Regions from separate parts of the Homo sapiens genome. Here region 1 is linked to region 2. Evidence: fine-mapped expression QTL. A gene starts in region 2. The other region holds a variant in brackets. All regions are shown on one strand. Distances are from middle to middle.

What was found.
Region 1: its variant is fine-mapped to the expression of PAPOLA in whole blood (INTERVAL, PIP above 0.99).

What each region holds. Positions count from the first base shown.
Region 1 is chr14:96,469,945-96,475,321 of GRCh38, reverse strand. It overlaps AK7 (adenylate kinase 7), which reads right to left. Exons shown (of 18, transcript NM_152327.5): 13 at 3,716-3,844; 14 at 2,567-2,635. Among named protein-coding and RNA genes, the nearest start is that of PAPOLA-DT, 30 kb to the left of the region's middle. RefSeq lists a silencer at 1,084-1,284. The variant C/T (reference allele first, on the strand shown) is at 2,999.
Region 2 is chr14:96,499,504-96,504,880 of GRCh38, reverse strand. It overlaps PAPOLA (poly(A) polymerase alpha), which reads right to left and starts at 2,499. Exons shown (of 22, transcript NM_032632.5): 1 at 2,281-2,499. The coding sequence starts at 2,288. It overlaps PAPOLA-DT (PAPOLA divergent transcript), which reads left to right and starts at 2,555. Exons shown (of 1, transcript NR_122121.1): 1 at 2,555-3,233. RefSeq lists enhancers at 1-349, 350-851, 2,007-2,602, 2,426-2,685, 2,603-3,197 and 1 more and silencers at 2,186-2,305, 2,744-3,087.

The DNA of each region.
Region 1 (5,377 bases), 30 kb after region 2:
GGAATCCTAAGTGTAAATTATTTCAATGGCATTGACCTCTCTATGTCACCATTCAGTTCCCTCCCTCAATTAAAATCCTACAAGTACGAATGAAACAATGCCCTACTTTCTTTCAGAGAAATAGAAAATAAAGACAATTTCTGAAAAGTTTGCTAACAACAGATTAACGTTCCAAATAGATTACGTCTTAGACGTGTTTGCACTGTGTCCAACAAAGAATGGAAAGTCCAGTGGCCTACGTTTAAGAGTCCTTGGTCACTTGACCTCTGTGCTTCCATTTCCTTATCTCACAGGCAGGTTTCATTAATTGTTTTGGAGGCAGTGGAGTGAGAAGACCTGAGTTTTAATTTAATCCCCCTACCATTTACTAGTGAGTGGACTTGCATAAATCTCTAGGCTTTAGCTTCTGGATTGGGTAAACATGGGTGTAATTCCTGCCTTGCAGGATTGTGGAAAGGTTCAATGAGTGCCTGGCACATGACAAATTGTGCACGACCAATTGCCAGTTGAACTGAAATGTATCCAGCTGCCTGGATGTTATGGGTGTTATGATTTAGCACAGAGTTTGCAATGAGTGAATATTGCCTAGAAGTGATAAACAAAATGCACTGGACACACCTACCTAGAATTTAATAATCAACAATAAAGTAGATGAACAAACTTTACTTTTTATTTTATTTTTTTAATTAATTTTTTTGAGACCGGTTCTTGCTCTGTTGCCCAGGCTGGAGTGCAGTGGTGTAATCAGGGCACCTGCAGCCTTGACTTCCCACACTCAAGTGATTCTCCTACCTCAGCCTTCCAAGTAGCTGGGACTACAGGTGCATGCCACCACCCCCAGCTAATTTTTTTGATTTTTTTTTTTTTTTTTTTTTAGTAGATATGAGGTCTCACTATGTTGCCCAGGCTGGTCTCTAACTCCTGAGCTCAAGAGATCCTCCCACCTTGACCTTCCAAAGTGCTGGCATTACAGGCACTGTGTCTGGCCAATCAACTTAGCCCACAGGCAAACAATAAATATCCATCCCCAAGGATGACTGCTATCTGGTGGTCTCAGTCCTTCCAGAAGCTTCTCTGCAAACTGTGCTGGACCAAGAGAAGAAAACAGCCACAAGCTGCCTTCCTCGGGGACTTGATACCAGTGAGCAGGCAGGCCCTTTTCAGTTACAGCCTTGTCCTAAGTTGCTGAAAATAGCTTTTCTTCTAGCGATCATATGACCCAAAATGATTCCCTATGAATATCTACCTCAAGCAAACTGACTAAAAACAACAACACTTTTTAACGTTTACAGGAAGGTCACAAGAAATGCCTGCTCAGTACTAAGTAAATCCTGTTGTGTACGATAAATTGCTTATGCTTTGCTTTCAAGAGTACTTTGTGAAATCCCTGTGTAAATATGTGATAGAATAAAACCACTGTGGAGTTAAGAGTGAACTGAAAAGCTTTTGACCTGTGCAATCTCAAGTCAGAAGCTGAATGTCTTTTGGAAGAGATGAGGGCACGGTTAGCACCAAAACCAGGGCAGGGAAGGAGGCTACATGACTCACGAAGTCAAGCCATCAGCAGATTTGCTACCTTTTGCTTTGTTACAGGAGAGAGCAGTGGAAGACAACGTTCCCACAGGGATTTCTATTCATTTCAGCAATTTAATATTCCTCATGTTTATCCGTTGGTGCATTCTCTAGTTTGCAAGTTTATGCTTGAGAATGTCTTTTAATATTTTTCCTAAAAAAAAAAATCCTACTTTATTAAACTCAAAAAGATTCTTTTGGCACAAAAGGGATATTGGGCTACTCTAGGCACACTGCCTATGGTGTAGCCCTGCTCCTTAAGAAGTAGTTAAAAAAAAAAAAAAAGAGCCTGGGCAAGGTGGCTCACACTTGTAATCCCAGCACTTTGGGAGGCCAAGGCGGGTGGGTCGGGAGATCGAGACCATCCTGGCTAACATGGTGAAACCCCGTCTCTACTAAAAATACAAAAAAATTAGCCAGTCATGGTGGTAGGCGCCTGTAGTCCCAGCTGCTGGGGAGACTGAGGCAGGAGAATGGCGTGAACCCGGGAGGCAGAGCTTGCAGTGAGCTGAGATCGCGCCACTGCACTCCAGCCTGGGCAACAGGGCAAGACTCAGTCTCAAAAAAAAAAAAAAAATTAGCTGGGCATGGTGGCAGGCACCTGTAGTCCCAGTTACCGGGGAAAACAAAGAGAAAAGAGAGAGATATCAGACAGCATTCTTCTTTTCTTTTGAAACAGAGTCTCTGTCGCCCAGGCTGGAGTGCAGTGGCAGGATCTCGGCTCACTGCAATCTCTGTCTTCTGGGTTCAAGTGATTCTCCTGCCTTAGCCTCCCGAGTAGCTAGGACTACAGGCACACGCTACGACACCCAGCTAATTTTTGTATTTCTAGTAGAGATGGGGTTTCGCCATGTTGGCCAGGCTGGTCTTGAACTCCTGACCTCAGGTGATCCACCCGCCTTGGCCTCCCAAAGTTCTGAGATTACAGGCGTGAGCCACCACGCCCAGCCCAGAGAACATTCTTTTAAATGTGATCTTAGGGAAATAAACTTACCAGGTATAATTAATTTATCAAAGGGAAACATTCTGCCTCTGACATCATCTTCCTCCTCCTCATCTTCCTCTAAGAAAACAAAATATTCCTCATTGTGTTTATTAATATATTATTACTATGGATCACAGCAAAAAATTCCAAATATCTTAAGTAGCAAGCACTAATGAAAACTAGCCATAAATAGCACATGTATTTTAGAAATAGTCTCACAAACTAAATGTACATTGATAGATGCATGGATAAAGAAAATGTAGTATATACATCCAACAGAATACTATTCAGCCTTTAAAAAGAAGGAAATGGCTGGGCATCATGGCTCACACCTGTAATCCCAACAATTTGGGAGGCCAAGGCAGTAGGATCACCTGAAGCCAGGAGTTCAGAGATCAACCTGGCAACAGGGTGAAACCTCCATAACATTTTTAAATTAGT[C/T]GGGCGTGGTCATGCACGCCTGTAGTCCCAGCTACTCGGGAGACTGAGGCAGGAAAACCACTTGAGCCCAGGAGGTCAAGGCTGCAGTAAACTATGATTGTATATATCACTGTGCTCCAGCCTGGGTGACGGATGGTCTATTTTTTTTTTAAAGGAAATTCTGCTATATGCAACAACAAGGATGAACCTTGAGGACATTATGCTAAGTGAAATCAGTGACAGAAAGACAAATGCTACATGATTCCACTTACATGGGGAACTTGAGTAGTCAAATTCAAAGAATGAAAGAGTGGGATGGTGGTTGCCAGGGGCTGGGGAGGGGAAAAAACAAAAGTTACTAATCAACAGGCGTAAAGTTTTAATCAGGCAAGATGCATAAGCTCTAGAGGTGTGCTGAACATCACAGTGCCTATAGCCAACGATAATGTATCGCACACTTAAAAGCTTGTTCCGAGGGCAGATCTCGTGTTAAGTATTTGTGCCACAATACAATAAAATAAAATTTTAAAAAATTTGTAAAAGGCTATGCACCTTGAGCCACCATCCAGGGGGAAAAAAAAAGAAAAAAAAAAGCTACGTAAAGAAAGGTGAGCCAAAGCTCAAAAATAAATAGTCTCTCTAGTTTTCTGTTTACTTTAATTGAGTGACTACTTCTCTGAACAATAAAGTTGCAACTTATCTGAATATAAATACTCAAAATAGAACACTCAAACTTACGATTGAACAGGTCTTTTGCTTGATCATAGGTCTTTGGGAATCCATCCAAAATATAACCTTGATTCCTGCAAGGCATTGATTTTAGCTTTTCTTTCATAAATCTAATTATATATTGATCGTCTAGTTGACCTGATAAAAAAACATATATGTATATATTACTTATAATGTATCACATTCTAAGTAAGAGTTGTTTTAAAGTTATCTCAAAAATTGTTGTGTAGTCAAAGGTACTATTGGAAATCCCTATTTTGCTTTTTTTTTTTTTTTTTTTTTAAAGAGACGGGGTCTCACTCTGTCGCCCAGGCTGGAATGCAGTGGTGTGGTCATAGCTCACTGCAGTCTCAGCCTCCCAGGCTCTGCAATCTTCCCACCTCAGCCTCCCAAGTAGCTGGGACTATAGGCGCTTGCCACCATGCCCCACTGATTTTTAAACGTTTTGTAGAGAAAGGATCTTGCAATGTTGCCCAGGCTAGTCTTGAACTCCTGGCCTCAAGCAATCCTCCCACCTTGGCCTCCCAAAATGTTGGGATTACATTTTGGCCCTTAAAGTAAAAAATATGTGATTTTGTACTTTGAACATGATGTGAATTCTAATGCACAGTAATGTAGGAGAACCCAGTGAACTTGTCTGCAAGAAAGAGCATGGGCGAGTGCCGATGTCTGCACTTTCAAAGTGTTCTGTAATCCCAATTTTTGGTGAAATTGATTGAGGAGCAGCAACTGGAGTAATGCAGAGAGCTCCGCCCGCCCGCAGGGTTTCTGTTTTGATATTACACCTCTGTAACCTTACTATACAATAATAAATGCTTCTGTTGTGAGAATTGTGAGATAGCATTCATGTTTGTTGCCAGCACATAATTTACTAAAAGAAGGTGCTGGATTTGACTAACAATCAAACTTGACCCGACCCTCAAAGGCACTTTTCTCTGTAATGCTTCAGAAAAGAACACGGCTCCCTTCTCCGTGTCTTTTCCAGTTGGCATTTCTGACCTCAGCCCCACTGGACAGTTCCCTCTCAAGCCCTGACACTGGGTTCCTGGCACTGCTTGGGAAGGATGAGGAGGGAGGAGTTTGTTCTAAAACTGGCACAGTGGTTTAATAACAACATGATGCAACTCCACCACAATATCCATCACTCCATCATAATTATTGAACAGCTACAATGTTCAAAACGCAGCCCCATCCTTACCTTGCTTAATGTGTACATTATAGTAATGTAAGTTTGACAAGTTAGGGAAATTGATCTTCAAAGCTCTTTCCAGAGTTTGTACTATTCCTTTACCTTATCAGTGAATCTATTATTCTTTTACCTTATCAGTGACTCCCCCTCCTCCTCTCCCTCCTCATCCTTCTCCGCCTTCTCATCCTCCCCCTCTTCCTTCCCTCCTCCTCCCCCCTCATTTTACATAATGTAAAATAAATAATTTCAGGCTTCTTTTTTATTACTCTATCAATGACAATAAACTGATCTAATTAAAACACCTCTCCCGGGCGGGCGCGGTGGCTCACACCTATAATCTCAGCACTTTGGGAGGCCAAGGTGGGTGGATTACCTGAGGTTGGGAGTTCGAGACCAGCCTGACCAACATGGAGAAACTCTCATCTCTACTAAAAATACAAAATTAGCCGGGCGTGGTGGCACATGCCTGTAATCCCAGCTAC
Region 2 (5,377 bases):
AAGCCAAACACAATATAGCCGGGAAATCACAATCCAACACATCAAAAAAACAACATTTATGACAGTGTGACAGCAGTACATGAAAAACAAAGCAACTTAATGAGGAAGAAGCCCTATTTTTCTTTAACTAGGCATTCTTTGGTCTCTCTATTGTTTACTACAGTAATTATCGTATACTTACTTTTTGAGTCTCGCTCTGTCACCCAGGCTGGAACGCAGTGGCATGATCAAGGCTCACTGCAGCCTCAGCCTCCTGGGCTCAAGCAGTCCTCCCACCTCAACCTCCCAAGTAGCTGGGATTACAGGCATGAGCCACCACGCCCAGCTAACTTGTGTTTTTTGTTGAGATGAAGTTTCGCCATGTTGCCCAGGCTGATCTCAAACTCCTGGCCTCAAGCGATTTACCTGCCTGGGCCTCCCAAAGTGCTGGGATTACAGGCGTGAACCACCGCGCCTGGCCCCGTCTTCCATTTTACACACTTGAACTAACTCGCGAAGAATTTGAAATACCTAAGGTCTTTCACAGAAATGTATACCTTCCCTCTTCAAAGAATGTTGGGGGAAAGTAGGTATAAAAGTACTTTTAATTCCTAGAAATAAGACACAAATTACTTAATGTTATTTCTTCATTGAAGCCTTTTAAGGTTTACATCTATCATTTTTAATGCTGGTATGATTATCAGAAAAAGAAGTCCCTTTTCAAAGACAGCAAAATGTTAACTTAATAACGCAGTCATCACGACATCACTGCAAACATTTATCTCCTATTGAACTGAGAAACACCACAACAATCTTGCTTAGACTCAGTTCTCCTAGGGTCTCTTATTCTATGAAAGGGAAAAATCAATAAACAGAAACCATGCAGATTCCAAGATTTTAGACCTGTATAGTTAGTTAAGTCTAACAAACGTTTTCATCACAGAAGTAATGTGATAGACTTCTTAATAACCTAAGGGGGTGGGTGGGAGCCATGGAAAATCCTTTTAAAATACATAAATTGCGATAGAAGTCATTAAGGTCTGTGCCAAAGTTAGAGTCTCACCTGTAAAGAAACACATTCACACACATATATAATTGTAAAACTACAATCGGTGATTATGTGCTAAAGAAATTATCCTTACTTACAAAAAAAAAATAGACCTGAGTTACTACATTCGATGTCTAGAAACCACAAAAATCTTTATCCTGAATTTAACCAAAACTTTGAGTGTCAATTACATGTTGCGTTTTGAGGCTACTAAGATGAAGAAAACTCGGTCCCTGGTCTCAAAGAGGCACTCTTACGCTTCAATATTCAAAAATGGAAGAAATGCAGTCTCACTATTTAGGCCTCTACAATGCTGTATATTTGCAGGAAAAAAAAAATCCGTAATCTACTGGCAATGAGCTGCCAAATTATATCTCATTATCAGAAAGGGGGAGGGGAGAAAAAAACTTTTTAAAAACCCACCAAGAAAAGAAAAAGGCGCAGTGGCATTAGAAAGCATAAAGAGACTAGCTTCAAGCCTTACAACCAGGAAAAAAAAAGTATCACCAGAGATAGAGAAAGAAGGAAACAGAATGAAACCTGGTTACCCCATCAAAACAAAACAGGGAAAGCAATACATAAGTCGTTTTGGAGGAGGGCACCCTGTGAAGTGCCCCCTTCTCCGACCGCCTGTGAATGCTAGGGAGGCGGAGGTGGAGGCAGGCGGACTCAACGCTCAAAGCTGGGCTTTTAACTCGTGCTCCTACATTCAGACAAGGTCAGTGGAAAGGGGCTAACTCCGGCGCACAAGACAGGCATCTGGAAATGGGAGGAAGAGAGTGAGCAAACTGAGACAGACCAGGAACAGAAAAGCAACATCGAATGGGCCCGAGGGGCGCCGAGAGCGAGCCCGAACCCCAAGTGCTGATCCCGCGTGCAGCAGGGTCGTGGTTCCCCACCACCAGGCAATGTTTTGTTTTCGGGTTGTTTTGATTTTCTTTGTGGACGGGGCGGAGAAGCTGGAGTGGCCGGGCGAGTTAGAGGTTCCGCCAGCAATTCCGGAAGGGGAAGGCCCCCGGCCCGACGGCAGCTGACCCAGCCAGGAAGGGTCGGGGGACGCGGGAACCCAGCACACGGGGGGAAGTGCGGCGGCGAGCGAGCGAGGAAACAGGAAGGTCCCCAGTCCTGCCTGCCTCCTACCAGCGGGGAGGGTCGGGCTCGCGTGCCACCCTCTCCGCCTACCTCTTCCCCTTCCCGGACGCCCCCCAAGGCCCAGCCGGCGAGCGAAAGAAAACAGAATACAAATTACTTACAACGGCATCGTCTCCGGCGCCGGCACCGCCCAGTCACTTCCCCCCCGCAACCGCCGCCGCTGCCGCCCTGGGCATGATCCACTGAGGCGGGAGGGAGGGGGGGGCCTGCCTCAGCCCTGGGTCCAACCCCTCTCCCGCACCGCTCCCGCCGCTTTAAGCGCTTCTCCTCCTTCCCCTTCGTCCTAACATGGCGCCCGAGCGCTACCACAGCAACGTTCTAGAACTGCTGACGCCACCACGCACGCCGTGCGTGCGCCTGCGCACCAGCGCCGTCCGCCGCGAAGCCTCACGGGAAGCGGAGTTCCTAAGGCCGCCTGCGGCCCGGCAATTACCCCCTGGGTCCTCTCACACTTAGCAGTGGGTGTCAGATGGTGGAAGGGAACGCTCAGGGAGGCCCCGGGCGGTGAGTTGTCCCTCGGGCGGGGACGCCCTCGTGGGCAGTGCGGCGTGGACGGCGCAAGGAAGAACCCGGAGAGATCCCAAGCCACGAGGCACCGCTTCCGGCGCATTGTGAGGTCCCACCTTTCCCGCCGCCTGAGGTCGCGGCGGCTGCTCTTTCCCGGAGCAGCGTCCCTGGAGGCGCTGCCAGGGGGTGAGGCACCCACGCGTGCACCGTATGTACCCCCCAGCGCGGCGCTTAGAACGACTCGCATGAGTCGCTGCCTTGGGTTGGAACCGGTTACTCCGCCGCTTCGTACTGGACTGCAAAGTAACAAGTACTTCGCCGGGCAGCGGTGCCGACCCCGTGTGCTACGGCGAGAGGTGCTTAGCCTAGAGCCGACGAAAACATGTCCCCAGGACTCCCTTTCCCTCCCAGACTGCGTCCCACCAGATGGAGCTTTCCGTCTGTTTTAACCACCAGTGTATTCCTGATGCCTGACCCAGGCGCTGAAATATTTGTTGAACGAATAAATGTGTAGGTTAGGACTGACGACAGTCCGCGAATTCTGGAACACGGGCTGATTTTACTTTTGAACAAATGATGCACTGGAACTTCCTGACAGAGCTGACCTTTTATAGGAACATCAATGGCAGTCACCGCTGGCATTTTAGCAAAGGTTGTCTTGGTCATAATTTCCCCTTGACTGTGTTTCCAGCCCTTAATCTATATCGGGTGGGACCTGGAAGTCTACCTTCTCGCCACCCCTCGGCAAAAGTTTGAGAAAGTGTTTGAGGCAGAGCCTCCTCTCTCATATGCCCTCCATCTGCGAATTAGAACGAATTATAAGTTCTACGGTGTCACATAGGGGGTTAGCGGAGAGGAAGAGGGAAAGAATCAAATACAGGACGCTGCCTTAACCAAAGTTCTAAACTCTAAATGTAATAATGTGCATTTGTGAGTCCTCAGGAAGTTTCACAAAGGCTTTCCCTTTTTTCACAGAATGTCTAGTAGGACTGGTGACTCCGAATGGGAAAAACACAGGACCTAGACCTGCCCTGTCCATTAGTGTAGCCCCTTGGCCACTTAGGGCCACTGAGCACTTGAAATGAGGCTAGTTCGTTTAGGAGGCACTGGAAGTGCAAAATACGCACGGGTGTCAGTTCGACGAATGTGAAATACCTCACTGATCACTTTTTATATTGATTGCACGTTGAAATATTTTGGATATATTGCAGTAAAGAAAATGTAAGCCGGGCACGGTGTCTCACACCTGTGATCCAGCACTTTAGGAGGCTGAGGTGGGAGGATCGCTTGGGCAGGAGTTAGAGACCAGCCTGGGCAATATAGGGAAACCCCCGTCTATACAAAAAGTTAAAAAAAAAAAAAAAAAAAGAAAAAAGAAAAAAAAATTAGCTGGGCATGGTAGTTCCTGCCTGTGGTCCCAGTTACTCCGGAGACTGAGGTAGGAGGATCCCTGGAGTGGGAGGTGGAGGCTGCCGTGAGTCGTCATCTCACTACTGCACTCCAGCCTGCGTTGACAGAACGAGATCCTGTCTCAAAAAAAAAAAAAAGAAAATATACTATTAAAATTAATTTTACCTGTTTTTTTAAATGTGACCACTAGAAAATTTTAAGTTATATATGTGGCCTTCATTTCCATTAAATAGTGCTGATCTGCAAACAGACTTATATTTGATTGTCATTTCTTCCATTTAGTCTCTTTTCCTCTTGTCATCAAGGTGGCTTTGGCTGGAGACCCAGTAGCATAGTTGTCCCTAAAAGACTGAAAATCTGAGATCCAGATAATTCAATAATGTATTAAGGCTATGGACTTCAAAGCAGCTTGTAAAGATATGCCCTGGGGCCTGGCACAGTGGCTCACTCACACCTGTAATCCCAGCACTTTGGGAGGCAGAGGATTCCTTGAGCTCGGGAGTTCTAGGCCACCCTGGGCAACGTGGCAAGTCGTTGTCTCTACTAAAAAAAAAAATCAAAAAAATTAGCTGGCCTTGGTGGCACACACCTGTAGTCCCAGCTACTTGGGAGGCTGAGGTTGGGAGGATCACCTGAGGCAAGGAAGTTGAGACTGCAGTGAGCCCTGATCATGCCATTGCACTCTAGCTTGGCAACAGAGCAAGACATTGTTCAAAAAAAAAAAAAAAAAATGCACTAACGATGTACTTTATGAATAAAAGAATGGGGACTTTTTCAGCTTATGTTGTCCTCTGCCAGGCATCTCAGAAGGCAGTGAAGAGAGGGACGCTAAACATCCATGCTTTTGGTCTATAATTGCTTCAAACTATTTTTGTTTCAGCCTTCCATAGAATGAGGCAGCTAGATAGCACAGCTGATGAATATTTAGTACCTAGAATGTGCTAGATATCACGCTACTTGCCTAAGGCATTTAAAAGGAACAATATTGAGGATTGAGGATGGAGTCAAGGTAGACTTCATGTAAGAGGTCACTTCAGACACGTCCTGATATGTTAGGGTTTGGTAAGTGGACAGAAGGAGTAGAAGGGCATCTCAGGTAAAGAGAACAATTTTTAAAAATAAAATGAGGCCGGGCGCAGTGGCTCACGCCTGTAATCCCAACACTTTGGGAGGCTGAGGTTGGAAGATCACTTGAGGTCAGGAGTTGGAGATCAGCCTGGCAAACATGTTGAAACCCCATCTCTACTAAAAATACAAAAATTAGTCGGGCATAGTGGTGGG